3 separate regions of the Homo sapiens genome follow, and all the other regions are linked to region 1. Evidence: fine-mapped expression QTL. A gene starts in region 1. Each other region holds a variant in brackets. All regions are shown on one strand. Distances are between the middles of the regions.

The links. PIP is the estimated chance that this variant, and not a neighbour inherited with it, causes the effect. A credible set is the group of variants that fine-mapping cannot tell apart.
Region 2: its variant is the best candidate, but not a certain one, in a credible set for the expression of HS1BP3 in whole blood (TOPMed, PIP 0.71).
Region 3: its variant is the best candidate, but not a certain one, in a credible set for the expression of HS1BP3 in aorta (GTEx, PIP 0.81).

What each region holds. Positions count from the first base shown.
Region 1 is chr2:20,647,100-20,657,325 of GRCh38, forward strand. It overlaps HS1BP3 (HCLS1 binding protein 3), which reads right to left and starts at 3,999. Exons shown (of 7, transcript NM_022460.4): 1 at 3,933-3,999. The coding sequence starts at 3,964. LOC105373466 (a long non-coding RNA gene) reads left to right here and starts at 4,183. Exons shown (of 2, transcript XR_001739320.2): 1 at 4,183-4,253; 2 at 4,876-5,101. RefSeq lists enhancers at 3,346-3,425, 3,446-3,595, 3,680-4,417 and a silencer at 3,676-4,265.
Region 2 is chr2:20,700,471-20,710,696 of GRCh38, forward strand. It overlaps LDAH (lipid droplet associated hydrolase), which reads right to left. Exons shown (of 7, transcript NM_021925.4): 6 at 1,100-1,182. Among named protein-coding and RNA genes, the nearest start is that of GDF7, 38 kb to the left of the region's middle. The variant T/C (reference allele first, on the strand shown) is at 4,815.
Region 3 is chr2:20,621,106-20,631,331 of GRCh38, forward strand. It overlaps HS1BP3 (HCLS1 binding protein 3), which reads right to left. Exons shown (of 7, transcript NM_022460.4): 5 at 3,627-3,787; 6 at 2,791-2,926. Among named protein-coding and RNA genes, the nearest start is that of HS1BP3, 25 kb to the right of the region's middle. The variant C/A (reference allele first, on the strand shown) is at 5,801.

The DNA of each region.
Region 1 (10,226 bases):
GCTGCGGGGAGGTCCTCTCAGGGGTGGGAAAGGGATGGAGCAGACCCAGATGGGCACCTCCCACGATCCAGCTCCCTCACAGCACCCCACATCCAATGGTTCTCTGACCACGCCAGAACCCACAATCCATAACCCCACCCCTTTTCCAGGGTCCCATTCCATTGCTGGAATCCCTCTGCCTTAGGCCCAGCTCCCCTGACTTCTTACCCAGAGCTGAGCTGGCCTGGTCAAAGCCCACTTCTCCAGTTCTCTGCTTCCTTCACCCTGTGCCCAAGTGGCTCAACGTGACTGGGGACAGACATGGTGTAAACATGCAGCCTGGTCCCATTGAAATTCATGGCTGCAGACTTGAAGGCACAGCACCACACCAGGCTTGGCAACCCTACCTTGCCCTAGATGTGGGGTTCTCAAAGTGTGGTCCCTGGATCAGGATCAGCATCGCCTGGGAACTTGTAAGAAAGGCATGTTCGGGCCTAGGGTGGCCAGCCATCTTGTTTTCTTAGTAAGCCCTCCGACGAGTCTGATGCACCTGGGCCTACTCCATCACCCTCCCACTTCCCTGAACCCATAGGAAAACTTTCTCTACAGGGTCAGATAGCAAATATTTCAGGCTGTGTAGGGTATCTGGTCTCTGCTGCAGCTGCTACGGAGAGTACATAAACAAATGGGGGTGTGGTGGGCAGGATGTGCCCTAGACCAAGCTTCTCCAACTGTAATGTGCGTGCAACCCCCTGGGGATCCTGTTAATATGCAGATTCTGGTTCTGCAGGCCCCGGGGTGTGCCCTCACCATCTCTAGCAAATTCCCAAGTGATGTGGACACTGCTGTGTACTGCTCCAGAGACCATCGGAGAACATCCTAGGCTTCGCTGTCACATCTGCCCATCAGCCTGCAGCTGCTCCCTGATAGCTGCCCTCTCCTGGGACTGTAGACAAACTGGCTGGCTGCTCCTAAGGCCAACCTTCTACCAGGGCAGCGGCTCCGAGGCCCTCCCACCTACTGAAGGACATAGCTGCTGCAGCTCACCCCTCTTTTTCGCACCATCGATTTTCCTTCCTTACTGGCCCACGCTTATTAGCATGCAACCATGCTCTGACCACTCATGTAACAAAAGCTGTGCTTTGACCCGACATTCCCCTTGCTCCGTTTCCCTCCTGCCCTTTCCAGCAGAACTCCTCAACAGAGGGCCCCATATTCATGGGTTCCTCTCCTCCTGTTTGATCTTGAACCCTTTCCAGCCAGACTTTGGTCCTCATCATGCAACAAACTGCCCACGCCCAGGTCATCTGCGACCTCCATGTGGTTAAATCCAAAGGTGAATCCTCATTTCTCCTCTGGTCTGACTTGTCAGCAGCAGTGGGCACAGTCAGCCACTCCCCTCCTTCAAGCTCTGCCTTCACTGGTGGCTGGAGCACCCCCTCACTCTTGGTTCTTCTCTGCCCACCCTGGCCACTCTTGCTCAAACAGGAGGAGAGGAACTGCTTTGGATGGTTCCCCTTGATAGCATCCAGAGCACCCTCCTTCTTCCTCTCACTGTACCCCTCCCCAGGTGATCTCATCCAGGCTCCAGGCTTTAAATACCATTTCCGAGCCAATGGCTCCCCAACTCCCATCTTTAGCTCACTCTCCCCTCACAGCCAGCCTCCTTCCAGCTGCAGCTGCCTGACATCCCCACTGGGCTGTCAACGAGCTTCTCAAAACTCACCTGTCTACACAAATGCTGCTTCTACCTCTCCCCAAGCCTGCTAAAGGGCAGCCTCATTCTTCCAGCAGCTTAGGCTGAGAGACTTGCCGTTAGTCTTAACTTCTCTTCTTGTTCTCACACCCCATATCCAAGCATCAGCAAACCTGAAAGCTCAATCTTCAAAATATATCGAGAACCCAAACATTTCTCACCCTCACGGCCGCCATCACCCCGGGCCAAGCCACCACCGGCTCTACATGGAAACCTACAAGCCTGTCCTGAATGCTCAGCTCGGCCACTGCCCATGCTCAGCATAGCAGCCAAAGGATCTCTATAAACCAGAAGTTGGGCCCTATTGCACTTGAAATTAAATCTGATGGCCCCTCCACAGCCTTCTCGGCCTTTCCTGATCATCCTTCACTCCCAAGCTTGCCTCTTCACCGCATCACCTAACACTCTCCCTGGGCTCACTCCACTCCAGCATACCAGCCTCGGGACCCTGGCTCCTGCTGTCCTGTCCTCCCAGTACACACTTTTCCAAGATTTCTTTTTCATGGCTCTCTCCCTCATGGAGCTTGTCCGGGATCTGTCCAGGCGCCACTCCATCAGAAAGATGCCTCTTTACCACACCATAGAAAACAGCATGCATGCCTCCTACCACTCTGTTGCCCCCACTGTTTTGTTTTCCTTCATAGCATGTATCATCCCTGACATGTCGTAGATTTGCCCACTGGGCCTGTGCCCTCATTAAAGCTCTACGAGAGGGACTTGTTTGTCTCCTAGAACTAGGGCCAGTACCCGGTACAGAGAAGGCTCTCGATAAACACCTTCTGGCTGAATTCAAGCTTGAGTGCATGTGGCAATGACATGTGGGAGGAGATCGGGCTGGAAAGAGGAGCTGGGGTGCGACTGGGAAGGGCCGGCCTTGCTGCTGGGCTAAGGCGTTTGGACTCACCCTGCAGGCAAGATCCTTGGGTGTGCTGGTGCCCTCAGCAAGAAATGAGCCTGACTCATGTGGCCTTACCACCGCCAGCGCCCCCACATCTGTTAACAAGCCACGTCCAGGCTGTGCAGCGGGGCAGGGAGGGAAGCCACCCACCCCATCCCAAGCACCCAGCACCAAAGTCACACCCCATCCATCTGCACATGGCTGAGGGGCATATACTACTGACGTTGCTCATGCCTGCCAATCTGAAACCTCCAATTCACAGAAAAGGAAACTGAGGCTTGGTGAGAGGAGGTGACGTAAGTGGCAGTAGGGAAACCTCTTCTGCCCATGAAGATACAACTGTAACCACACTTGATCATGAAAGACCAAGCAGCCTCCGACATCAGGGTTTACAAAAGGAATCATACCTTTCTAGACCTGAAGTCACGGGGAATTCCTGATTACAACTGGAAGATCAACAGTTGGCTGGGTAACACGTTCATTTATGTCATAAATTGGCATCTTAGCCTAAGACTTTGTGTAGGGAGAGCAAGGGTGAAGTGTATGAAAATATTTGAAGTAAATCACTTTACAGCGTTTTAAAGGCGGAAAGAAGTAAAAGCACGTGCCTCCCAGCCTTGCCAGGATCCACCTTGGGCTGGGTCCTCCAGGTCTCGATCAGGGCCGACCCATTCTGCATCCTCCGCCTGGACCCCTCCAAGGCTTTTGCTGTAACTTGCGCTCTCCTGAGCTGCCTCGCAAGCAGCAACGACCTCTCCCTGGTCTCTCATCAAACTCATCCTCCCAGAAACCGGGTTCCTGCCCTGTACTGTGTTCCCATGGCAACCTGAGCTTACTACCCGCTGCTGGCATCACCCCCTCTCCGCTGCAGCCCCCTGCAGGGCGAGCTTGTCTGATTCGCCTCTGTCCCCAGTGCCCAGCACCGGGCCTGGGACTCAGGGAGCTCTGAAAGGATGGGGAACTAGATTTTCGGGCTCAAAAGAGAAGAACCCAAGGCGGTAGGAAAGGAGAGCAGAGTCCCCACTGCGCCCGCCTGCACTGAACCAGTCAGTCCCAGGGCTCCCGCTGTCCTTGGCTAGTTCTCTACCCTCCAGAGGGCCTCGGTTTCCTCATCTGTAAATCGGGGTCGCCACCTCTCCTGCAGGGCGGTGCAGGGGCCCAGCCCGGATAAGCCACCGAGGGCGCTGGGGAGACCTGCACCAGGTCCCTGGCCTAGGAGGCGGCGGCCTCCCCCCGCCTCTCCGCCCGGGCGCCCCGGACTGCGAGCTGTGCGGTGTGGGGCGCGGGGGTCTGGCTCACCTGGAGGTGACGAGCACCGCCGGGGACTGCATGACGGCGGCGGGGACTCCGGGCGGGGCGCGCAGTCACGGGACCCGGCAGTGCCCGCGTCACCGCGTCCCCGCCCTGCCTCCCGCTGCCCTGGCCTGCCCCCTGGTGGCAGCGGCCGCGCAGTTCGCGCCTGTGGCCAGAGGCGGGGCGGAAGCGCGGCTGGGCGGGTCCCGCACGGTCGCCGTCGGCCTGCGCTGCTCGGAGCTTCCGGAGCACCCAGGCTGAGCCGCGCCCGCCGCAACCACCTAGAAGAAGCCCAGCCTGGCCCTGGCACACGGTGAACCTTAATCGGTGTGTCTGTTTTGCGCTAAAGTTTAGCCGTTAGAGAGACGGGACTCTGCTGTTTCCGCCGCCAGTCCCCATTACAAAACCACTCCCCCTCTGCCCCAAGACCATTTCATTCAACCGATCGGTCAACAAATATTTACCAAGCTGGGGCTCTGTCCAGGCTTCGTGGGGTCTTCTTCAAGCTGCACAGTGAACGCCACGCAGCAGCCCAGTCCCCTTGAGCTTGCTGCCTCCAGCTAGCTCGCCTATCTGGTTCCTACTGCCTGCCCGCTCCATAAATGGCAGGCACTCTCCCGACAGGGGATCTTTAGAGAGGCAGCCTCTGCTGCTTGGCAGAGCCCTGGTGGAGGCCTCCCGGGGCCGGGCCTGCCTGGGATGGCTGCACTTGGGTCCCCAGCTGGAGCAGGGCAACGGGGTCCAGGAGCCAGTTCCCCTCAGAAGGGGAACGTACAGACATGCAGACCCTAACAGACCCACTCATTTTAGATTCACCTCTCCATGGGGTGAGGAACAGAGAGATCGTATCACCTGCCAACGTAGCCCAGGGAAAGAAAAGCTGAGTCTGCAAACAGGGCCAGCAGAAGGTGCAAACTGCTGCCCCTGTTCTGTTACTCCCTCCACCCAGAGCCCCAGTGACAAAAAGAAAGAGAAGCTGGGCTTAACTATACCAGAATTCACGGCAGGGCGATGTCAGCCATGTTTCCTGAGCCTATCAACCACCGCCACCAGCATCACCAACAATATCTACCAGTTTTTACAGATTTTAGTGAAGAAATCCTACAGTAAAAGATTTTGAAAAATGACTTTCCCCAATGTATCTCTTGAATAAATACGGACATTGATATGCCTTATTATTTGTCTCAGATTTGTTTATAGGCAAGATGAGCAATCATGAATGAAGTATGACAATGAATGAAAGTTCTGAGGGAGACCCTTGAAGGCTGCAGTGAAGAGCTGGGATGATGGCGGGAACCCCTGTCTGCTCTGCTGCTCATCGGCCTGTCCGTCTGCAGGGCCGTGTTCATGGCTGCAAATGGTCCTCCGTGTTTTGTTTAAATTGGCATGCCCTACTTTAGAGAAAGGGAGTTCAGGGTCTGGACAGAAAGCAGTATAGGCTTCAGCATTCCAGGAGTCTGAGTGTAGTGCCAGGCAGTCGAGCAGTCACCATTGCACTCACATTTATCCAACAGACAGAAACACAGTGAATAAGACACTTTAGATGCCTTCAGTGGACTTCTTTGCCCTCCTACATGGGGAGTGGGTGGGGGTCTGGAAAGGCTTTCTAAAGGAGCTGAAGTCCAAGGGAAAACCTGAAGAAATATGGATAGAATAGATTAGAAGGAATGTCACGTGCAAAGCCCTAGCGACAGGATAGGAACACCAGGGAACAGGGGGAAGAGGCCAGCAGGAGCCAGGGTGTGGACAGCCTAGTGCACCAAGGCCAGGGCTTTGCCTGATCCTGAGGCCAACACAGCGCCATCAGAGGGTCAGGGACATAGGAGTGGCTGGGCCAGCTAGGGCGTGGGCAGGGTTTTGGAGCATGTTGAAGGTATGAAGATGAGCTGGACTGCAGAACAATCCAGACAAGAGACAATGGTCCCATGAACTAGGGTGATGGCCACCCAGGTGGAGAAGAGGGGACGGGTAAGAGGGCCTTAGGAGAAGGAGTTGGTCAAGACTTGGGAATCCAATGGGTGTGGGCGGGAAGAGATAAGATACCACTATGGTTTGGCTCTTGTGAGTGGCTGGACATTGGTATCATTCTCTGTGGCAGGGCACCTGGAGAAGGAGCATATTTTTGGTAGGATGATGGGTTCTGTTTCAGACAGGCAGTGTTTGAAGGGCTGGACCTATTGATGCGATTGGGTTTATGGCCCTGGGCCTCAGGAAGCCGACCTGGGCTGGAGACTGACATAGGAGTCATGGGTAAAAAGGAGGCTGTTGAGCCTGAGAGTTGGGGTGAGCCCACCAAGGATGGTCTACAATCCAGAGATATGCAGCGGTGTTGGGGGGCTGCAGAGAAGGGGACTCTCCATCATTGTGGGAGCTGGTAGCATGTCTGTCACCAATGCCTTGTAAGCAAATGAGAGGGCCTCACCTGTGCCCCTGGGGTTGTGAAGTGTGCACCTCAGGAAGACTCGGCCCACCTGTCAAGAATGCAACTGGTTTCCCATGAAAGAACGACCCCATTCCCAACAGCAATCCCATTTTCTGCCTCTGTGGGTCCCACGTGCCCCTCTATGGCTCCAGCGCGTAATTGTATACAATGCATGGAATGTGGGATCTAAATCTGATATTTTCTGCTTCCTGTTTAATTCAAGGAGCCCCTTCCATGGCTGAAGCTGCGGTAACACAAACCACATTGCAAAGGATTTTCTATTTCTCTCTTTCTCACTGCCCTGGGAGGAACACTCCAGGCCTCAGTTTCCACCCAGGAAGTCACTGGGCCTCAGGACACTGTGGTCACTGAGAGACACCCGCAGCCTGCAGGGGGTGCTCTGAACTCTGGCTGAGCCATGCACCAACGTTTCCCATGGTGGCTCGGGTCTTCTGGGACCTTATAATTTGTCTCTGTTCCCTAATGTGATACTTTAGAGCTCCAGGGTCTGGGCACATCCACATGGAGCAGGGCCACCACCTTGCTTGTCACTCAGCAAACACTCATAGGTACAGCTCCAGGCCTGTTATCTCCCCAGGCCTGGGGGCTACAGAGCCTTATCCTGTGGGGCTCACAGCCCACTGCAGGGGCTCACAGGCCACTCTAGGACAGCTGGAGATTTCAACAAGGATGCACGCCTAGGGTGCTATGGTGCACAGAGGAGGGCACATAACTAACTCAGCCTAGGGTTGGGCATACAAAGAATTCTGCCAGGAGGAGGTGATGGCAGACCTGGGTTGTAAAAAGTAGGTATTATTTTTTTGAGACTTGATTTTCTCACTGGTGAAATGCACGTAACAGAAACCTTTAAATCATAACATTGCTTGAATTACATGAGGTAAAATGAGACTGAAACAAGATGAAATGTATGGCAGGCATTGGTGATGAGCTAACCGGAAGCCATTCACAACCCCCTTCTTCCTGGTTTTTATTACCATAGAGGCTGGAGAAGTAAAACACATGTCCCATTTCAGTTACAAGGGGCCATGTGACATAACTGACCACATATACTTAAGTCCCTGTGGAGGATTTATCTTGCTAGGAGAAAACTCTTCGCTCCTTCCTTGTCTTCTACCTGGGAAGGGGATACAGTGTTGGAGACACAGCAGCCATCATGGGAGCAGGAGGCACAGACATGAGTTTGGAGTCTACCATGTTAGGGATGAACAAGCCTGGGGAGCTGATGGCATATGAGCTTGCATACACGCCCTGGACTTTTTCTACAAAGTTCTCCTTGCATAAATGCCTAAATCACTCTAAGTGGGGGTTTTCTGCAGTGGATTTCCTGTTGGTGTAGTTGTAAAGTACTTACATAATGCCTGACATAAAAACTGCTCCATAGGGGATGCAGGGATGACTGAGGAGGAGGAAGAAAAGAGGTAAAATGTGTACTAGGAAGGCAGCTTGTCTTTTTTTTTTTTTTTTTTTTTTTTTGAGACAGGGTCTCATTCTGTCGCAGTGGCATGATCACAGCTCACTGTAGCCTCAACCTCCTTGGGCTTAGGTGATCCTCCCACCTCAGCCTCCCAAGTAGCTGGGATCACAGGTGTGTGCCACCATGCCCAGCTAATTTTTGTGTTTTTTGTAGAGACAGGGTTTCCCTATGTTGCCCAGACTGGCCTTGAACTCCTGGGCTCGAGCAATCTGCCCTGCTGAGCCTCCCAAAGTGCTAGGATTACAGGTGTGAGCCACCATGCTCAGCCTAGTACGTCTTGATAGAACCAGAGCGTATCTGAGGAGCTGGTGAGAAGAATATGTGGAAGGATTGCTGGGAGAGGAGGCAGCAGAGGGCAAGAGGAGCCTGTGTTCCCGCAGCATAGAGGGCCTTGTGCGCTATGCAAAGGAGCTCACATCTTATCCTGAAGAAGGAGGGAGTGGGCTCACAGAACAAAGGGAAAAGAGTGTTTCAGGAAGAGACTGGGGTGTGATCAGCAATGCCAAACACTGCTGAACATCCAGGAAGATAAGGAGGTGTTCAAGAAAAACAAACAAAAAAACCCCACAGAACTGAACAGTAGTTAAAGTGGTGAAAGCAGATTTTATTTGGGACTACTGCAATAGGGGTAAGAGACCCCAGTATAGAACTAGGCTAAATTCCGAATGCAGCATGAGAAAGTAGGAATTTATAGCCAAGGAACAGGGTGGGAGTGGTGGCTGGAACATTACTAAGACGAGTATGGGGGGACTCTGGCTATGCCGACCTAACAGGATTCTTGCTGAAGATGGGCCAGGATGGTCAGACATCACCTGGGGATGGTGGAGGAGGGGGAACCCAGTTGGATATCGAGGGTGATCAGATAGGCAGGGTGGGAGGATGTTGGTAACCTGACTTAGCCACGTTCTTCCTAAAACTGGATTTTACAAGGAAGTGCATGCATAGGTCTAAGAGAAGGTTCAGGAGCTCAAAGCTCAGTTTGGTCAAGAAGAGAATCTTTGAAGAGAGAAAAGTGTTCTCTGGCCTCGAGGAGGGCAGTGTCCCAGTGGGTGGAGGAGGGGACAGGAGGTGGGAAGGGGAGAAGGGAGTAGGGCCCCCTCTTCCAGAGGGGGACAAGCAGACAATTTTTGGAACCATTCTGTAGAAATAATTCATGCTCATGGTAGAAAAGCTGGAAAATAGGGATAGTAAAATTAAAAAATAAAAATCGCCTCTCATTCTATACCAGATATAACAATTGTACTAATTTTTTGTTCCTTCTCTCCTGACATTTTTTTCTATGCCTATACATAAGTCTTTTTTTTTAAATAATACAGAATCTTAATAGCTATACTATTTTGTAACTTGCTTTTTCATTTACCATCCTGTAAACATCTTTCCATGTAAAATGACCTCCAAAACCATAATTTTAAATGGCTCCTTAGAATACCATATGCAGATGGAGAATAACTGACTTCTCTGGTCCTTAAGCTGTGTACATGTGATGGAAAGCTGGTGCACTGGAGGAGTACTGAGCGGGGTGGATGATCTTTGAAGTGCTGGCTGGTGTTTAGGCCAGATCCCTAGGAAGAAGGCTTGGGAGAAAAGTGCCAACTTGTTTGGGAAACTTGTTTCTTGAGTCTTTCAGTGTGCATTGCTATTGTTGAACAGCAGAGGAGATTGGAAGATTGGGAGAAATGAGACAGTGCTTCATCGCTTTGCATTGTAAAGGAATTTGGGAGGCATTGTCTGCCTGCGGCTCCTGAGCTCTGGGTGGTGGTCTGGCTTGTGGAGGGGGCGTGGGGCCCAGCCGCCTGGAGGAGGCCCAGGGCAGGCCAGCTAAGGCTGCAGACCTTGGTGGGTGGCATTTAGTGGCTCCACTGAGTCCTGCTCTGCTCTGTCCAAGACGCCCCACCTCAAACCTTCAGGGCCTACTATGCACCCTCGTCTCAGGGAAATGGCGTCTAGTACTCAGTGCACCACAGTCCTGGAAGTGGCTAGTCAACAGGAGTCAGGAAGCTTGGACTGACTGTGGAAGCGAGGCTCTAGGGATCCTCAGGAATCTTTGCCTGAGGCACAGCAAATCCAGCTATTTTGTTTGGATATTGTAGAAAGTCCCAGAACTTGGAAGCACAGAGACATGATGCATTAGATGGGTTTACATCTGCACTCTACTAAACTGTGCTCAGGAAAGCTGAATGAGGCACGTCTTCCCCAAACCTCGCCAGCCCCGATTCATTTTCTTACATCCTCTCAAGTGTGAGAAGTGAAAATGCTCTTTCTTGCTTAAGTACATTTATATGATTACAGGTGCGGCTGAGCATCTTTCTCCTATTTGTTGGTCTTCTGTTTCTTTGCGACTATCCTGTTTATTTCCTTTGCACATGAGAAAAAGCTTGCTCCA
Region 2 (10,226 bases), 53 kb after region 1:
TAGAAAAGTTTAAGTCAAATGTATCAAGGTTTATAAAGACATTCTAAGTCCAGTGGGTTATCTCGTATTTCACTTGTGGATTGCTCCTGAGTCCTATGAGAGTTTGCCACTCAGCAGGGATCATTTCAGCAGGTATCATAGTTCAGCACCAATTGTAAAGTTTAAGACTAATGCTGTCCAACAGAAGCATAAAGCAAGGTACATATGCAATTTTAGAATTTCCTAGTTACAATGTTTAAAAAATTATAAAGGAATGGGTGAAATTACTTTTAATAATATGTTTTACTTAATCCACTATATCTAAGGTAGTATTTCAACAGGTAATCAATATAAAAATTAATGAAATACTTTGCTTCTGGGGGAACTAAACTTTTGAAATCCAATGTGTGTTTTACACTTATGGCACAACTCAATTAAGGCTAGCCACAAATAACCACATGTGGCTAGTGGCTATAATATTAGTACAGTTCTGTCCTACTCAGAACGGACAGCCAGACAAATGATGCCACAGGAGTACCACAGTCATCCAAATTCTAGGGTGACCTTAGACATATACTAAACCCTACTCTTATAGTTTCAGAGATTGGTGCTTCCAGATGTGTGTGTGCAAGATTCTAGTATTTGCAGCATAACTCCCAAATGTTGAATATTTCACAAAACTGGTCTTAGGGTCAGAGCAGGACATTCCTACTCTAACACATTAGAGAATAAGAAAGGCTCACTAGTCATGAGATCATATAACATATAATGTATTTTCCACTGTTTCATTTATATTCCAACATTATTTATTCTATAAATATTATGGAGTTTTCTCAGTAGAAGGCCTAGAGAGGCTAAAATGCATTGACAAAATAGAAAAGTATTGATTCTAAAATTAATTCAACAAAAACAGGTGATAAAAAAATAAGTTATTATGCAATTAGCTTTACTACTCTCTACACAACTTTCAGGGATAATTTCAATTTTAACTGGAAGTAGAACTCTATGTCATTCTACCAACCCTTAAAGTCTTACAGATTCTAACTAGTTCTAGTCCTTTGCCCTCGTATCTCTGCCCATCTACTTATTATCTATCCCCTTGCAGCACTAAAGTGATTACCTTACATAAATGCTCCTTTATGGTTTCGTCATCTCTCTTCACCACCTCCATCATTTCTTGGCCCCCAAGGTAGGCAGCATTAGCTACATTTAAAAAATAAAAAGTCAAACATTTAGAATATATAGAACAAACACAAATTTCAAATTAATTTTAGTAAATTCATGTTCCTCCTTTCTTTTGGCACGTGCTATCTGATGAGAGATACTGGTGAGGCCAACAGAGGAATGTGAGTCAGGCAACATGCACACAGTCTCTGGAAACAAGAGCATTTCATTTAAAAGAACCTTCTTCCAACCTCATCTGGCTTCTCCATAGCAAAAGTTTAACAGTGCCACAGCCCAATGTCAGATACCACAGCAGATGATGTGTGCAATTTTACCAGACCAATATGTGCTATTTCGATTTAAGGCTTAGAAGTACAAATTGTTACCAATAAATCATGTATACCAAGAAAATGCAAACAGTTACTAACATGAAAATATACTGGCTTTTTTTTTTTTAAAGGAAACAACTAAAAGGATTATTTATCTTTAAAAATACGTTTAAAGTTCTCCAGGAGTTTTCAATAGGGTTAGTCCCATTACACTGGCTGCAAAATAAGCAAAGTGATGCTCACTTTCAAGATGTCAAATACCTAGGAAAGAGGAAGAACGCCAGAGATAACATGAGTTTATGTGGCTTTCTTGTACTGGTAAGAAAATTTTCATTCAATGCTTTGTACCCTGAATTCCATTTTGGCTGGTATTATTATTCTTATCTTGCTTTCTTTTTTGCCAGCATCTGTCCTTCCCTTCATTTTCAATCTTTTGTCATTTTGTTTCAAGTATGTCTCTTGAAATCATGTAAGTGGACTTCTTTAAAAATGCAGTTTGAAAGTCTCTGTTTCTTAAATAGAAGGACTAAACATATTCACATATATTGAGATCAAAGCTATTTGGTCTGACGCCAGTCATCTTGCTTTATATACCCTACGCTTTCTTGTTATTTCTGCCTCTTATCTTTAGTGTGAATGATGAATTTTCCTCCCCACCCAGGATTTAACAAATTTCTTTTCATTAACAATCTGAAAGTATAAATTCCATTTTTATTTATCTAGTGGTTAGCCTTACCTAAAAACTGCAAACTTACTTTTTATTTTCTCTTGCTGTCTGGAATTACTCATCTAAACAAGGCATGACCTTAGCATACTTGCACTTTCCCCATGCCTTCCTCCCATCCTGCCTCCATCCCTGTTGCTTCAACCATCTGGAATTTTAGTTCCAGATTATTATTATTTTTTGAGATGGAGTTTCGCTCTTTGTTGCCCGGGCTGGAGGGCAATGGCACGATCGTGGCTCACGGCCACCTCCCAGGTTCAAGCAATTCTCCTGCCTCAGCCTCCAGAGTAGCTGGGATTACAGGCATGCGCCACCACACTCCGCTAATTTTGTATTTTTAGTAGAGACAGGGTTTCACCATGTTGGTCAGGCTGGTCTTGAACTCCTGACCTCAGAAGATCCGCCTGCCTTGGCCTCTCAAAGTGCTGGGATTACAGGCATGAGCCACCGCACCCAGCTCCCAGATTATTAATTTTTACATTTTGCCTCTGCTTTCCTTGTTTAAAGTTTTATCAAGGTAACACACATACACATATATAGTTTCATATCAAATATCACAGAAATGGTTGTAGTGCCAAACCATAGTTTTCTTTTCCATCATTTCCCATTTCTAGACCCGTTTCCTAGAGGAAGCCTCTCTGAACTCTTTTAGCTGTCCTTCCACCAGTTATCTTCAAACCTCTAAACACTTACGATCATCTTGTCATTTCTTGATAACTTATTGATTACCCTTGCTGAGTTGCTATGAAAGATGAGGATTTAGCTCCCTTTTACAGCCCTACCATTCCTTCCTGCCATCTTCTCAACATGTTTATATCTTATTTTGAATTATTCTATTCTTACTTAAATAATATACTTACACCTTTACTTCTGAATATTGTTCACTGCTGAGCCAAGTGGTATCTAGAACCACACTTCCACTCTTACACTTCCATTCTCTGTCCTCCAACATTTGTTTTCGTTACAGTTACCTTTTTTTCCCTCTTAACTCTACTCAATATTTTTCTGAGTCAATTCTTCCTGGAGACCTCCTTTCCAGGACCCTGAGACCTTCTGCTCTAACCTGGACCACTGTCGACTTAGAATTTCCCTTCACTGCCTTCTTGGGTTGTTCCTATTGTTTTCTAAGTCCCAGTTAATTAACTCATTCATTTGTTTATTCATTCAAAGATGACTGAGCACCTACTTACTTTATGCCAGGCCTTATTTTAGGCGCTGGAGATGGAGCAACAAACAAGACAGAAACACTATTCTTGAGCTTATATTTTAGTGTTGGGATGATAGATGGTGAGAAAGTGCTATGGAGAAAAATAAAATCAGCTTAGGAGATAAGTCTGTGCAGTGACAGAGGTGGCCTATTTTATGTAAAATTCACTGAAAAGACCTCCCTGATAAGGGGATGTGTGAACAGAGAAGAACTTGAATGAAATGAGAAAATGGACCATGCAGATACTTGGGTTAGCAGCACTCTAGACAGAGAATAGGGTAGGAGATGCTCCCTTAAATATAGCCATGATATAATCCTAAAAAGTAGCACTTTAATCATTCTTGTCTGTCTGTGATATTAGCATGAGTACATATAGGAGTAAATATTCTGCATTTTCTTGGCCTAATCTCCTAAATCAGAACAGGATATTTAGTCGCAGTTATATACTAAGAAGCTGGACTATAAGACTCTAAGTCCCGGTTCCAAAATCAGAACTGTCTTTGTTTTACTATATTTCAGGGAATTTATAAGGACCAACTAAATTAAAGCAACAGAGATTTGATTAATACATTATGGTCTATTCACTAAATTAATTATTCTATAACCTATTAAAAATTATCCTGCAGAATATATAATGTCAAATACATATTTAAAAATAATAGTAACTGACAAAAAACAAACCATGAAATAGTACAGTATGATCCCACTATTGTAAAGATACATTATGTGTATGGTACAGATTTATTTGAAAAGATAAACAATAAAATAATAACACGTTATCTCTGGTTGATGGAATCCCAGGTGATCTGCCTGTCCTTTCTTCTCCTCTCACTTCCCTGCCTCCCTTTCAAATAGGTTATAGTTTCTTTCTTTGTACATCATTTTGTCTTTCCTAGAATTATTTGTTGCCTTTACTTGATTTTCTTTTCTCATGAGTAGACAATGAAAATTCTTTCTTCAAAAATGCATCAGATTTTATTCCCAAATGTACAAACACATCCAATAATTCATTTATTCTGTCCCTCCCCCCACAGAGCCTTCCATTCTTTTGATCCAATCTTGGACGGGTTGCTCTCCAGGCCTGCTGCATAGCTGTCATCCTTGGACTTCCCTTTGCCACTTCTCTGGACTGGATTCCCTGTTTTATGGATTCTGTTCATGACTTTCTCATTCTTGGTTTATTCCCTTACTTTACTGAAGCACATTTTCCAGTAACTAATAAAAAGATACACAGGAATTTTTATAGATGTTTACATGTCTAATTTTTGTTTCTTTTCCCACATGAATCACATAGTTTGGCTGTATATAGAATTTTAAGCTGAAAGGGGCTTACCCTCAAGTTTATTATCTTCCAGCATCCAAGGTTTATGATTTCAATTTTAGTTTCTTGGAATGTGACTACTTCCCTTTG[T/C]CCTGCCCCTATCCCATCTCCTTATCCTCAAACTCAGCTGTCTTAGCTCTAGAATCCTGAAGTTTCATAGGAATATGCCCTAATACAAGTCTTCTATTCCTTAATTAGACTGGAAATCCAGTGGGCCCATTCACTGTTTGGACTTACCAACTTTCTTTCTGGAAAATTTTCTTTTATTATTTCTTTGGTAATTTCTTCCCCTGTTTTCTCCATCCCCTCTTTCTGGAACTCCTACTAGTAGGGTATTGGCTCTCTTAGACTAATCCTCTGTCATTTTTCTTCTATAGCCTTTCTCTTTTTCAATTTGTATTATTTTCTAAGAGACTAGTTAGAATACTATTATATTGTCTAGTGGGGGAGAGAATGAGACTTAAAGTGCTTATAGTATGAAAAAGAATAAATGATCAAAGACATAATTTTTCCTACTATAAACATGTGCTCTGTATATAAAATGCAGAAATTATATGAGTAGAAGAAATGATTAGCAAGAACTTAGTGAAAAATAATCAATATTACTATTTTGATGACTTCATTTAAATCTTTAAAATTTTATTGTTAAGTCTTAGTTTTCACATAGTTATACCGCATATGAAATTTAAAATTTTGCCTCTGAGCACATTCTAGAGTAGTGCTATGCAATATAACTTTCTGTGATGGTGGAAATGTTCCCTGTGCTATCCAACCAATACAAAGGCCCTTGGCTAGATGTGCCTCTTGAACACCTGAAATGTGGCCAGGGCAATAAGGAACTGAAATTTCAATTTTATTTAATTCATTTACATTTAAATAGCCACATATGGCTAATGTCTACCTTACTGAGCAGTGAAGTTCTTTCTAGAGCTACAAATAAGGCCGACCTTACAGAGCTAAGAAATGGATTAGATATTAGGAGAAGGTGAAGGAATGAAAAATGAATATTAGTGGGGGCTTAGGAGAAAAAAAAGTTTGGGGAACACCATGAGGAAAAGACAGATTTTATTGAAAGAGAAATTCTCATTTTCTTTATAACTCCCATTAGCCTTCTCTACAAAATCTGATCCCAACCTATGTTGAAGCTTGGCTTCATTTAAAGACTCATGCTTTCCAGTGAATGTGAGCTACTTATCCTCTAAACACATAAAATTTGCATCCTCAGCCATTTTGTTCATGGCATTCTGTCTACTTGAAGTCTTCCCACCCATCCTTTGTCTTGGCTTAGATGCTCTGTCTTTTCGCTACCTTGCTCTAACACTCCAATCTGTTAATAAAGACTGCTGAATTATCGATATAGAAGCCAAACCTGTTTAAACTGTTATTGGTTCCCAAAAATCTCAACTGAATTTTAATTTCAAATGGAAATGATTTTCCATAGTTCTACTTCTGAACAAGATGGAGTAAGAGGGACTGGATTTACCCTCCTACCTAAAATCCTGAAACAACTAAAAAAAAAAAAAAAGATAAAATACATGAAGAAAAAAGTTTTCAAGACACTGGATATTGGGCAACAAAAAGACAGCAATCCCTGAGAAAAGAGAAACGAATGAGAGGAGTCTTATGATTGTCTCAGCTTATCATTTGAAAAGTTTTCAGGCTACAGTGCAAGAAGGAGAAGTACAAGCAGAGCTTGGTAATCTCCCTCAGTTGATAAGTGCATTAATTGTTTTTTATTGTCTTCATTTTATGATGCTTTGACATCTTGGAGGCCTTGCTTGTCGGGGAGAGGCTGCCCCTCCCATGACTAGCTAAATTCTTAGAGATAGCAAATGATTCCACGGTGAACATTTCTTTCATATTGAGCAAACAACCAATCCAAAGGCCATACCCACCAACCACCTCCCTTAGAAAACTCTCACACAACAAGCCAAATACTCTAAATCACTCTAAATCCTGCTGGGAATTATTTCAGGGCTGGACACAAGACATCTAGGAACTACTCCTATAGCTCAAAGCCCACCAAAATTTTTCATACCAGCCAATCCTAACTAAACCTGCTCAGCTGCCTAAACTGCCTCATCCCTTCCTTCCCATGGGGACCACAATGAAGGCTCTGGGCCATGCTCTCCTGTGCTCCTTCTGCCTCCTTCCCCAACTGGGTGCTTCCCCATGAGGCCCTGCCTAGTGTGCAATGCCCCCTCCTTTCAAGAATTCTAAGTAGCTCTTCTTTCAAAGGCAGTTGTCTCCATGCTTGCCATGTTAACACACCTGATTAAAACAATGCATTTGTAATCAAGGAGATAGAGGTGATAGTTTGGGGAGGCTACCGCAGTGGTTTTTGGTAGGGCAGAGTTGTAGAAGGAGAAAGCTGTAGTGAGTGAGAGAACGCTCCAGAGATCTGCAGAGGGGACCCCCTGAATTTCAGCTAGGTGCAGATCAGCACAATTGTATGAGAAATTTTGAGAAGCTGGGTGAAGGAATCATCTGAAAGAATTAGAGGGAATAATCCCTGAATTGAGAATAGTCACTGTTTCTACCAGTCCACCAGAGAACGTCACAACCAACAATGCATCCACTAGAGCAGCACCAGTACTGTGTCACACGGCAGGAGGTGAGCAGCAGGCAAGCAAGTGAAGCTTTATCTGTATTTACAGGCATTCCCCATTGCTTGCATTACTGCCTAAGCTCCACCGCCTGTCAGATCACTGGCAGCATTAGATTCTCAGAGGAGTGCAAACCATATTGTGAACTGAGCATGCAAGGGATCTAGGTTGCGTGCTCCTTATGATAATCTAATGCCTGATCATCTGTCACTGTCCCCCATCACCCTCAGATGGGATTGTCTAGCTGCAGGAAAAGAAGCTCAGGGCTCCCTCCCACTTTTCTACATTATGGTGAGTTGTATAATTATTTCATTATATATTAACATTTAATAATAATGGAAATAAAGTACACAATAAATGTAATGTGCTTGAATCATCCCCAAACCATTCCCCCAGCCTGGTCCAGGGAAAAAGTGTCTTCCACAAAACCGGTCCCTGGTTCCAAAAAGGTTGGGGACTGGTAACTAGAGAACTCAGAGAGGTTTTTGCCTTGGTGGTGGAGTAAAATTAGCCCTAAACCAAATGCCATTCTGGTACCAACTAACAGCCTAGAAGCAAGACCAGAAAGTATCAAACCGTCTCCAAATAACAAAACTGTGTCCCATAACACAGCTCAATAATATTTATAGAAGTACAAAAATATCCAGCATCTGACAAGGTAAAATTCAGAATGTAAGCTATCCAATAAAAAATTATCATGCATGCAATGCAAGAAAATACAACCCAAATGAGGAGAAAAACTGATCAGTCAAAACTGATGCAGAAATGACAAAGATAATAAAATTAATAAACATTCAACAACTGGAACTTGGACAAGTGGATATACATGTGCAAAAGAAGGAAGCTGGATCACTACCTCACATGACATAGGAAATAAATTCAGAATGGATCATAGCCCTAAATGTAACAACTAAAACTATAAAACTCTCAGTAGGAAAGAGAAATACATCTTTGTGACCTTAGATTACAGAATGGTTTGTAACTATGACATCAAAAGCACAAGTGACAAAAATAAATAAATAAATTGGACTTCATCAAAACTAACACTTTTATGCTTTAAAGGACACCATCAAGAAAGTAAAAAGACAATCTAAAGAATGGGAAAAGATCATATGTCTGATAAAGATCTCTAGCCATAATATATAAAGAACTCTTACAAATCAATAATAAAGACAATCTGATTGAAAATGGGCAAAGGATTGCAACAGACATTTCTAAATATCTTCTTAAGAAGATGTACAGGTTGAGTATCCCTAATGTAAAAACATAAAATCTGAAATCTTCCAAAATTCAGCTTTTTGAGTGCCAACATGATGCTACAAGTGGAAAATTTCACACATGACTATATGTAATGGGTTGCAGTCAAAACTTTCTTCATGCACAAAATTAAAAATATTGTGCAGTTACCTTCAGGCTATGTGTATGAGGTGTATATAAAATATAAGTAAATTTTGTGTTTAGACTTGGGTCCCATTCCCAAAATATCTCATTATGTATATGCAAATATTTCCAAATCCAAAAAAAATCCCATATCCTAAACACTTCTCATCTCAAGCATTTCAGATAAGGGATATTCAATCTGTACAAATGGCCAATAAGCATGTGAAAAGATGTTCAACATCATTAGTCATCAAGGAAATATAATCAAAACCACAATGAGATACTACTTCACTAGGATGGCTATAATAAAAAAAGACAAACAATAACCAGTGTTGACAAGATGTGGAGAAACTGTAACCCTCATGTCTTGTTGTTAGAATTATAAACTGGTACAGGAACTTTGGAAAACTGTTTGGCAGTTCCCTAAAATATTAAATACAGAGTTACCATATTACCCAGCAATTCCACCTATAGACAAGAGAATTAGAAACATAAGTCCACAAAAAACTTGTACATGAGTGTTTACAGCAATATTATTCATAATAGTCAAAGAGTGCAAACAATCTGAATGTCCACCAATTGATGAATGGAAAGACAAAACATGGTAAAGTCATGCAACGAAATATTATTCATCAATAAAAAGTAATGAAGCACTGGCACATGCTAAACCATGAAAAAACCCTGAAAACATTATGCTAAGTGAAAGAAGCAAGTCACACTCCAAGATATCAGACTTTGTGGGACAGGGCCAAAGCAGTAGTTAGAGAGAAATTTATAACGCTAAAAACTTACATTACAAAATCAATTATTTCAGTTTCCATTGCAAGAAACTAGAAAGAGAAGAGCAGTTAACTCTGAAGTAGGCAGGAAATAAAGTTCACACCAGAAATTAATGCAATTAATTAATGAAATTGAAGCCAATAAAATAATCAAGAAAATAAATGGAACTAAAAGCTGGTTCTTCAATAAAACAATCAAATTGATAAGTGTTTAGCCAGATTGATCAGGGAAAAAAATGTGAGAAGACAAAAGATATTAAGATATTACAAATATCAGGAAAGAGAGAGGTGACATCTCTGCAGATTCCAGATATCAAAAGGATAATCACATAATTTTGTGAAAAACTTTATGTCATGAATGTAGACACCTTGGACAAAATGGACAAAGTCTGCACAAAGACAAAAATGTTAAGCTTACTCAAAAAGAAACAGATACCCTGAATAGTCTTACATATATTAAAGAAATGGAATTTGTAATTTAAAATCTCTTCACAAAGAAAACCCCAGGCCAAGATGATTTCATTAGTCAATTCAATGAACAATTAAGGAAGAAATATTGATTCTACATAAACTCTTCCCAGAAATGACTATATATATGACTCACCCCGGACTATATATATATAGGGGTGTGTGTGTGTGTGTGTGTGTATATATATATATAGATATATATATATAGATATATAGTATACATATATATACACATATATATTATACATATATATACACATATATATTAT
Region 3 (10,226 bases), 26 kb before region 1:
CTCATGAGCAGCGGCTTCTTGCCCTGGGGCAGGGCCGGGCAGGGGTGGGGATAGAGAGGCGATACCTCTGATCAGGACAACTCCTGGCACTACCAGAGAGCCTGTGTGAGTATGGAGGTGTCCAGCACAGCACCCCCAGGGGTGGATGCCTGCCTGGAGCCAGCTGTGGAAGGAGCTCCGGACACCCTGCCTGCTTCCTGGCTCAACCTCCTGTGATGGGGCACAAACCCCAGAGAGAGAATTCAGAGTCTGTTTGGATGGCAGAGAAATGAATAAAAGGTGTCCTTCTTGAACAAACCCAGAGGGACTGGCCCAAGCCGGGCCTTCATAGACAGACCAGCTGTCTTGGGGTAGAGGTGATTTCAGGAGGTGTCACTCATGGCCAGTCTGCTCCTGGCCACCTCAGGTCAGATGTTCCGGAGCTCCCTCCAAGTGGCAGCCCTTCCTTGACTCCCCCAGGGCAGGTGCCAGCTCCACTGGCATGATGCAGCCTCCATTGAAGGCTGAGGGTACCTGGGAAAAGCTCAAAGGGACTGAATTATCCTCAAATAGGGGCCCTTTGGAAAATAAAGCAGCCGCTAGAGGCTTATGTCAGATTTCAGGATTAGCCTGCTTGGCAAAGCAGTGACTCTTTGGAACTAATCAGCAGCTGGATTTGCTCCCAGGTGGGTGGTGTACACGGGTGGTCAGCCACGGTGGGAGGCAGCATAGCTGCTCTTGGGACACAGGAGGCTGCAAGGCACCCCTTTTCCAAGCACCCTATTTCTGAGTCATGACTAGGACTAGCTCTCACTAGCGCAAGGTCCAGCTCTTTTCTCCTCCAGGCCCAGCTGGTGTGAGGTCAACCAGTGGGGGGTAAGGGAGCTCTAAGACCCTGGCCCCATTCCTTCTCCCTGGGTTCCTGCGGAAGACAAGACTCACCTAAACATCTAGACTAGAGGCCCTGCCCTGGTGTGGCTGCACAGCCAGAAGGAACAAAGCCTTCTTAGCCTCGACCCGCTCAGTGTACACCCCACGCGGCCTCAGGGTGGCTGAGGCTAGTGACAGAATGAACGAAGGGGTGAAAGCATGAATGAATGAATGGCTATCAGAACATTCTTTATTATGAGGAAGTCCAACTACTCCCTGGATAGTCACAGGGCAGACACAAAGAATGAATGTGGTTCCTGCTCTCAAGAAGCTAATCCCAGTGTTACGGCTCTTTTTGAATTTGTCTGAATTTAAAAAAAAGAAAAGCAGTTAATCCTTTCATTAGCAGATGTCTGCTAAAGTGAAGGTGGGGGTGCGGGACCCACACTTTTTGAGCAGGGACTCCCCAAGCGCTCTGCGGGATGCTAAGGGGCACCACAGAGTGGGGGGCCCAGGGATGAATGAGAACGTGAAGTGCCATGTGGTGCTGGCCCGCGCACTACGAGCCCTGCTTTTTGTGGCATTTCCCCAATTCATCAGCCACAGAGCCCCTTTGAAGATAGCCTTTGACCACCCCACTGTACCACGTTCTGCAGAACACAGGTTGGGAAGTAACGGATTTAGAATAAACTAGGCCAGAAAGGTCCCACGAGAGCCACCCCACTGGGACACATGGACTCCTAGACATGCTCGGCCTGGCCCTGCTGCTCCGCAGGCAGACTCTAGTATTTCATTTCCCTGTGCCTCGGTTTCCCTCTAATAAAATAACAATCCTGGTTTCTTCCAGCCCGCTGGGATGTCAGGAGCGAGGACACAGGATGAGAGTGAACAGATGCCAGGGGCCTTGGGGACATGTAAATACCAGAAGCCGTCACGGTGACTCAGGCTTGGCGGGCACTTGCAGGGCTGTCTAATAGCCCGAGGCTGCTAATGAGGGGTACAGATGACAGCCTCCAGGGCCTGCATGCCTTGGTGTCACATAAGCCGTTCCTGGAAAGAGGCGGCCTGGCTTCCTCTGAATCCCAGGCACAGTCCTGTGTCCTGGAGCATGGAGTGGGAGCTGGAGACACGCACAACACTGAGTCTGCTGAGAATGTGGCCAGTGGAGGTAAAGGCCTGGGGAGAACTGGGGGGCTGGGTGGGGAGGCAGATCACCCAGCCAAGTGCTCAGACAGTCCCTGATGAAGTGGAGAGGCCAGGCCAGGGGCAGAGCAGGGGTCTTAGCCAGGTGGCGTCCCACACTTGATTTCTTATAATATGGAGAAAATAGCATCCACCTTAGGGGGCTGTCGTGAAGATTACATAAGAGAGCGTGTAAGGAGTCTGGCTTACTGCGTACACAGCAAGGACTCAGGAAATAGGAGCTGTCACCGGCACAGGTTCTGCCAATTGACCTCCATGTGACAGCTGAGGCCTCATTCTCCCTTCCTTCTGTGAAAGCTGCCGACCGGGCCCTCCGGCAGAGAGGCCATCACCAAGACATCTGCACTTTGCCCCCTCGCTGGGTGGGCTGCATGCTGCCATGAGTCCGTTTAATTTGTTCCCAAACTTGCTTATGCCAGTTATACCTGCTCTTGCAATTATATAATTTAATTATTCTTTACATAAACTGTTAAAATATGATTGTGAAAAGAAAGACTGGTTGTGCACACAAAGTTCTCTCTTTCTGGAACTAGCTGAGCAGCCCTGGGCTGCGGATCCTCCCCCTCAGCCCCCTTCACCGCCTCTCACCCAATGTGCACCCACAGGCTTCTACTTTTCACAGGCCTGGGGTCCTCCCCTCAGAGGAGGCTGGGGCTGAGACTGGGCAATGAGCCGGGCCCTTGGCTCTGTCCAGAACACTCTCAGAGCTGGCCAAGCGCCGCTGGGGACAGGTGGTACCTGAACAGTTCCTTGGAGGCGTCCCTGTGGCTGAGGCTGGGTGTGGGCCCTCCACTCTCACAGGCGGCTGGCAGCAGGAGGGAGTCACCCAGGGGGATGGCCCCGCCGAGGTCAGGATCATCAAATAGCTTCAGGGCTGTGGGAAGGCAGCAGCAGGGGGGTCAGAGGAAGCCTCTAGGCTGGGATGCCATGGCTGCTCTCTCTCTGCCCCACCCCAGGAAGTCTTCTGGGCAGTCCTACAGGAATTGATGCCTCTGCTCAACCTGTCATAACTGGTGCTGCTTTGTAACTGTCAGGCAATGACCTGTCTCCCCAGGGGCCCCCGGGGCCCTCGGGATAGGGACTAGGGACAGGGACTAGGTCTCACTCCTCAGCATGTTCTTGGGCCTGGCCCTCAGTGAGGGCTCACCAAGTATGGGCTGAATTAGTGGGTGGCATCAATTCCCCTCACCGGAGGACGACCTGGGCATGTGAGGAAAGGGACCAAGGGATGAGTGGAGATGTCCCAAGGCCGCTCGGTTTTCCCTCTGCCAACTCTGCACAGAGCCCTCCAGCAGAGTCCATGCAGGCGACACAGAGTCCCATTAAATCCAAACCTACAGTCACACATGTGCCCTAGGCAGGCCCTATCGCTTACCACACAAACAGTGCCTGGAAGCCCAGGGCCCACATCTGCCCACAGATGTCATGGAAGCACAAAGCTGAGTCTATATCACATCTAAACAGGACAGGGGAGATATATGGGTCCTATTCACGCCGGGTGAGTCCAGACCCTGCCTGGTGATGGGGCTGGGCACCGAGAGGACACCAGGAGCAGACCATGGGGCTCTACTTACGGTCCACGGATGACACGTCCTCCGAGGGGTCCTGTGGAGACAGCTTCCTGCCCGGGCCAAAGAGCCCCTCATCAGGGTCCACCTCCTCGTCAAAGATGGTGAGCCGGGGCGAGGGCTTGGCTTTCACGGCCACTTTGGGATGTTTCTTGGGCTTCTTGGAGCTGGAGAATCACAGACAAAGCACAAGGTGAGGATTTCCCACAAGTGTCCAGGTGGTCCGGTCAGACCGACACAGGCGCTGGGCCCTGCAGTGGAGGGGCTGGATGCCATGGGCCAGAAAAGACCAGGCCAGAGGGACCAGGGAAGTCCTGGAGGGGGCCACCCAGAGCAGTCCAGGCAGGTGGAGCTGAAGTCTTTCTGAAATCTCTAACAGATGGTCACACGGCCAAGGGAAGGACAGGTCCTCCATCCCAGGGGAGAAAAGCAGGCCAGCGAAGGTGGTTGAGAAGCAGGTTTCCCCAATGACAGAGTGGTAAGGCCCCCGCTACTGTGGGCAGCTGTGCCCTGTGTTCAAGAAATGACCACTGTCAGGAGGAGCAGGCGGCTGCCAGGACCGGGCACCAGCTGCCAGACAACCCCAGCTCTTAGACGCCTTCAGGCCTTGAGTCTGCCATGCGGTCACAGGCCAGAGATCACACTCCCATTCGGAAGGTAGAGACAGCTGCCTGGTCTCAGGGTCTCAGCACTTGGGGGCCAGGCTCAGAGAACCACACTCCACAGCCACTCAGAAATGGGGATGGACCTGGTCTTGAGCCACAAACCTCAGGGCTAGGACTCAGGAGGGCAGAAAGCAGCTTTGGTAAGTGCCTTATTGTTTCCTTTGCATGGTAAAACCACCATTGTTCTAGTTAACACTTGGGTTCTGTGGAGCAGCCCCCCTCTTTCAGGAAGCCTCTCTGGGACTTGCCCACCTCCCCGGCTCCGACTCTGCCACCCCAGGTCCCATTACAGTGCACTTGCCGACTGGCTGAGGAGGTCCTGCTCTGGGCCAGACCCTGCTGTAAGAAACCAGGACGGGGCAGGATGGAAGCTTCTGGGGTGTAGGAGTACTTTAGTTTTGATCCAGGCGGTAGTTACGGGCTGGATAAGTAAACACGCATGGAGCTGAATGCTCAGGATCTGTGTACGTCACTGTAAGTGATACCGCCAGTAAGTAAACACACTTGATTTTACTTTAATAATTACTTTAACAGGCATTCAATCCCTGCTGATGATGTCTATTAGCCATTTTAAGGTTCCTGAAAATAATGAGAATATGCTCTTTACTGGAAACTGAAATTCCGTGTGCCTGTCCGCCTGGCGGGCAGTTCCACTGGACTGAGGTCACTATGTGAGGTCACCATCTGAGCTCATGTTGGTAACACGCTGCGGCAAAACTGCACCGAGAGGCTGGCCTACACAATGATACAGATTAACCAATGGCAGATAAAAATAGCAGAATGGCCCTGGGTGCTGGAGGGGCAGGTCCCCGCAAGGTGACCATTCCCACAGTCTGGAGTCTGAGGTCTGGCAGAATCCCAGGCACCCAGCCGAGGCGAGGAGAAACTATGAAAGCCAGGAAGGCTCCCTGCTGGAAGGTTCCCTGCTGGAAGGCTGCAGGACAGAGCATCCTCTGAGCTCAGAGCCCAGTCCCAGGGGAAGGATCTCTGCAGGGCTCGTTTGTTGGATGAGGAAACAGTGGTCCAGAGAAGCTGAGTGTCTGCCCAAGGCCACACAGCAGGGAAGGGACAGGCAGGCTGGGTCTAGATTGAGGATGGTCATACTCATGGTCCTATCCTCTTGTCCCCTCCAAATGTCCCATGAGGAAGGTGATATAGGATGGCGCAGGGATAACAGGATTGATCCTGCTGTTCTCTGGGGAGAAAGTGGCATGTTTCAAGGGTAGTGATGGGGAGCAGAGACGCAGTGGCAGGGACTGCTCCAAGAAGGCCCATCTGCCTGGTCCTGTGCTTTCTCCACCCAGCTCAGGCCATGAGGGACCTCCTCTGCTGTGCACCACCCTCAGGCCCTGCTTGTGGTGCTGGAGGTGAGGTGGAGGGAGCCTCGATTCTCCACCCTAAGGGCAAGTGCTTTCCAGAAATCTTCAGCTTCTGCTCCTCTGAGACCTGGAGGAGCCAGGGCTCGCCTGCTCTTACTCAGACATTCTCCCCTTTATTCTTACCAATCAGGCAGAG[C/A]CAGCTCGGCTCTCATGACTCCTAGGAAGTGGGTACCAAACAAGGGCCATGGCCTCCTGGGGCAGACAGCAAAGCTGACCCCAGCCAAGACCCACTGAGTCGGAAACCCCAAGCAGGCCCAGGAGGCTGTGTTCAGTCTCCTGTGGAATTCCACGGTCAGCCAGGCTCGCAGCCACTGTTCTGCCCGATGCTTCTCTCCCCTTCATTCCCCATCTCTGCCGCCCTTTGCGTGGCCCTTGCTCCTGGCCCCAGCAGGCACTGCGGTGGGGAAGGGTGGAGAGCCACCCCGGCCCCTACCCAGGTGGCAGCTCTCAGGGAGGGCAGGTCTGAGGCTGCTCTGCAGCCTCCCCCAGCAGCAGCTCCATGCCACACCCCACACTGTCTGCTCAGAAACAAGCAGGCCCTCCCTGGCTCCTGGGGATTGAACTTGCATGTAACCAGCCACGGGCCCCTCGGGGCAGGGGAGCAAGAGGCTTTGCATTGACCAGAAATCAGAGGGCGCAGAGAGGGAAGCGAGCCATCTGAGGAACAAGGGAAGCGAGAGAGAACAGGCGCGAGGAGGTCTCTCTGGAGAAGCCGTGGTGCCCCTTCCTACGCCTGCACCTGGTCTGGACAGCACACAAGAGGCCTAACTTTCCTTCCATGTGAGTTTTCTCCTCCAACTGGATCATGTCCTTGTTTTTCTCCCTAGAGACATGTTTGCCCTTTTGTTGTCCTGAACTGAAATAAAGTGGATCTACAGCACACGCGGGCGGCTCCAGCAGGCATGGTCTGTACCCTACCCCCACCCACCCATGCTGCCTGGGCTGCCTTCTCTACCTCCCCAACTCTCTAGACCCATCTTCAGGGGAATCAAGGAAGAAGCAGGAAATATGGAGTTTTGGTGCCTAAAAGCCCCAGGGTCCTATCCTGAGCGGCCCAAAACTTTCAGCCTCTGGGGGCTTAGTAATGTGCCTGGTCCATAACAGATGCCTTGATAAACTCTGGATGAGAGGATGCGCGATGGATGGAGGGGAGGAGGGATGGACAGGTGGAGGACAGGTAGGCAGGGAGCAGGGTGCCAGCACATCTCCATCTCAGGATTCTGTTAATCCCCAAGGCGGGAGGGGCAGGGAGGGAAGAGGGATAGGCTCCCAACCCCAGTCTCAGACAGCGCCCTATGTGCGAAAGCCCCTCCTCCGAAGATCTCCTGGCCGACTCCACTGGGCTTGCCACCAGGCCCTCAGCCACTCTATGAGCAACTCATTCCTTCCCTCGTGGGCACCTTTGATGGCGAGCACTCACTGAGAACCTCCCACCTGCAAGAACCTGTGCTGGGGACGAGGGAACAAAGATGAGGACGAGCCGCCGCTGTCCCCAGAAGCTCATGGCAGAGCAGGGTCACATAGAAACTGATCATTATGGCCGAGTGAGGTGGCTTATGCCTGTAATCCCAGCACTTTCGGAGGCTGAGGTGGGTGAATTTAAGAATAAAATATGAAAAGTGCTTTAGTTTAAAGCAAAAAGTTTACGGGAGGCCAGGAGTTTGAGACCAGCCTGGCAAAGATGATGAAATCCCATCTCTACTAAAAATACAAAAATTAGCGTAGCATGGTGGTGCATGCCTGTAATCCCAGCTACTCGGGAGGCTGAGGCATAAGAATCGCTTGAACCCCAGGGATGTAGGTTGCAGTGAGCTCACATCACACCACTGCACTCCAGCCTGGGTGACAAAGTGAGACTTTGTCTCAAAAAAAAAAAAAGGAAACTGTTCATTAGCACACAGGGTGTTCCGCTCTGTCACGGCAGAGCACAGAGGACAGAGCCAACCAAGCCTGAGGGCTCAGGGAGGACTTCTTGGAGGAGGTGATGTGGAGACAGGAAGTGAACTTGGTGGAATGGAGTTAAATAGCATCTTGGGTACAGGACCTGAGAGTCACACTGTGAGGGTCTGCAGCGGGCGTGACTAGGACATAACTGGGAACCCAGATTCCTCTTGGTGAAAGGGGACCCCTTAGGTTTGCAGCAGACGTAGTGCCATGAGGGAACAGGCTGAGAGTCAGTTCTTTCCAGGGAAGCTTTGCTCATGGTCCATAGAAGAAATGACCAGAGCCTGGACTAGGAGAGCAGCGGTGGTGCGAGGGGAAGACAGGCTAGGGGGAACTTCAGAAGGCAAACGTGCTTATACATCTGGACAGTTAAGGTGATCGGCTGACAGAAGGGAATTGTCTAAGGTGATGACAGGTTTCTGATCTCAGTGAGGGGGTCAGTAATTCCATGACAGGTGCGTCACTCAGTCTCTGAGCCATTTCTTCACCCTTCTCCTAGCACAAACACCTCAGGGTTGTCATGAACATGGAGTCGGGTCAGGTCGCACACATGGGCTATCACTCGGGGGCCCCCTCAATCCTCTCCTCCCTGGTCCTCCTCCTCCTCCATTCCTATATCAGCATCCACCCAGCTGTCTGCAGGCGCAGGGCCTGGCTCTGCAGTGCCCGCCCTCCAGCCCGCCCTCTGCACTGACAGGAGACAAAGCCCCTCACTGACATGGAGGAAGGGTGCCCTCTTCTCCCTTCATTGGAAGGACAGCTGGTCATGATTAGAATCTTGTCACCAGGGATGGGGCAAAAGGGGCTTCAAAGAGAGGTCTGCAGGGAATAGGACTGGAACTGCAGCTCCTGGCTTCCTGGTGAGCACAGGGTTCATTGGAACTAGTGCAGGCCATGAGGGCCACCAAAACATGAGTTGGGCCCACAGAGGTTGCATGAGGTAGGTGGGGTGCTCCTGGATGGATTGCAGGCATGTGCTGGCATGTTCTTGTTGCATGCACATGTGTGCATGGACAGACACCCGCTTTCCTGCTGTGTATTCCTGACGGCAGACAGACGCGCAGACCAGGCCATGTTCTGCAGGCGGGCGTGCAGCATACGGGGTGAGAGGCGGCAGCTGCCGCGGCTGACAGCTCCAATGCTCAGACAGGCTGAGCAGCAGCCTGGCTCCCTGTGGCTCAGGCAGTTCTGGTGACAGTGATTGACACATAAGAGCATCCACCACTCTGGCCACCCAGGGGGCCTGTGGCACCATTCCCAGATGTGCCCACCCACACAGCAGACCACCAATGGGCACCAGCTGCTCAGCACCGGGTGTACATGCATGGCAGAGGCATCTCCTAGACACAGCCAGCTTAACTGGGTCTGAACAGAAGACTGCTGATCTTTCCACAACTGAGACACATGGACAGCATGAGTCTTCAAAGCCAGGGTGCAGCTTAACCAAATACGGAAATCCACCTCCTTGCCAATGATGCAAACTGCGTGCTTTAAACTAATGCACTTTTCATACTTTATTCTTAAATTCAGCTGTTTGGTGTCTTTTTGTTTTTTGGGTTTTTGTTTGTTTTTTTGAGACAGGGTCTCTGTCACCTAGGCTGGGGTGCAGTGGCATGATCACAGCTCACTGCAGCCTCGACCTCCTGGGCTCAAGTGATCCTCTCACCTCAGCCACCCTAGTAATTGGGACACAGGCACACACCATAACACGTGGCTAATTAAAAAATAATTTTTTTGTCGAGATGGAGTCTCGCTATGTTGCCCAGGCTGATCTCAAGCTCCTGGGCTCAAGTGGTCTTCCCGCCTTGACCTCTCAAAGTCCTGGGATTATAGGCAAGAGCCACTGTGCCTGGCTGGTTTTATTTTTTCAATGAGAAAATTCTCAGAGTACCAATAAATGGACTTCTGAAATTCACACCAGGACAATGTTATTTGCAACAGCAATGGGCTTCCTTGGAGAAGCAATCACAAGAGTGAGAATCACCTGAGGACAGGCACTAACCCTGGGAGTCCAAGCCAGCCTCACTGGACAGGGGCTTCAGAGAAGGCCAGGATGGAAAAACGAGCAGAGTCACAAAAGCTGTGCTCCGGGCAGAGAGAAGAGCCCATGAAAATGCCAAGGTGTGCAGAGCCTGGCATAGTGAAAGTGCCCAATAGCTGGGCAGCAGGTGCATGGAGGGAGGGTCTGTGGGAATTGTTGGCCACCTCCAGTGGGGCCTGGGGAGATTCTGGCCTTTGCTGAGAGAGGAGCAGCAGAGGGGGATGTAGGAGAACTTGTATAGGATCTGGACCAGTCACTCAACTTCCCCAACCATGTTTCCTTACTGGAGGTCAAAGGGAAGAAGGAGGCAAATGACACAGAAATGCTTCGCAAGCTGCCAAGTGGGTCCTGGATGCAAGTCAGCGCAGGGCCGTGGCAGAGGTCTGGGGTCCTGGGAGCTGCCTGGTGATGTCTAGGCTCACTTATGCTTTCTACTCAGCAGACTTCACTCTGGGCCTTAAAAAGCAAATGGGGCCAGGCCAGGCACAGTGGCTCATGCCTGTAATCCCAGCACTTTGGGAAGCCGAGGCAGGAGGATCACTTGAGTCCAGGAGTTCAAGACCACCCTGGGCAACAT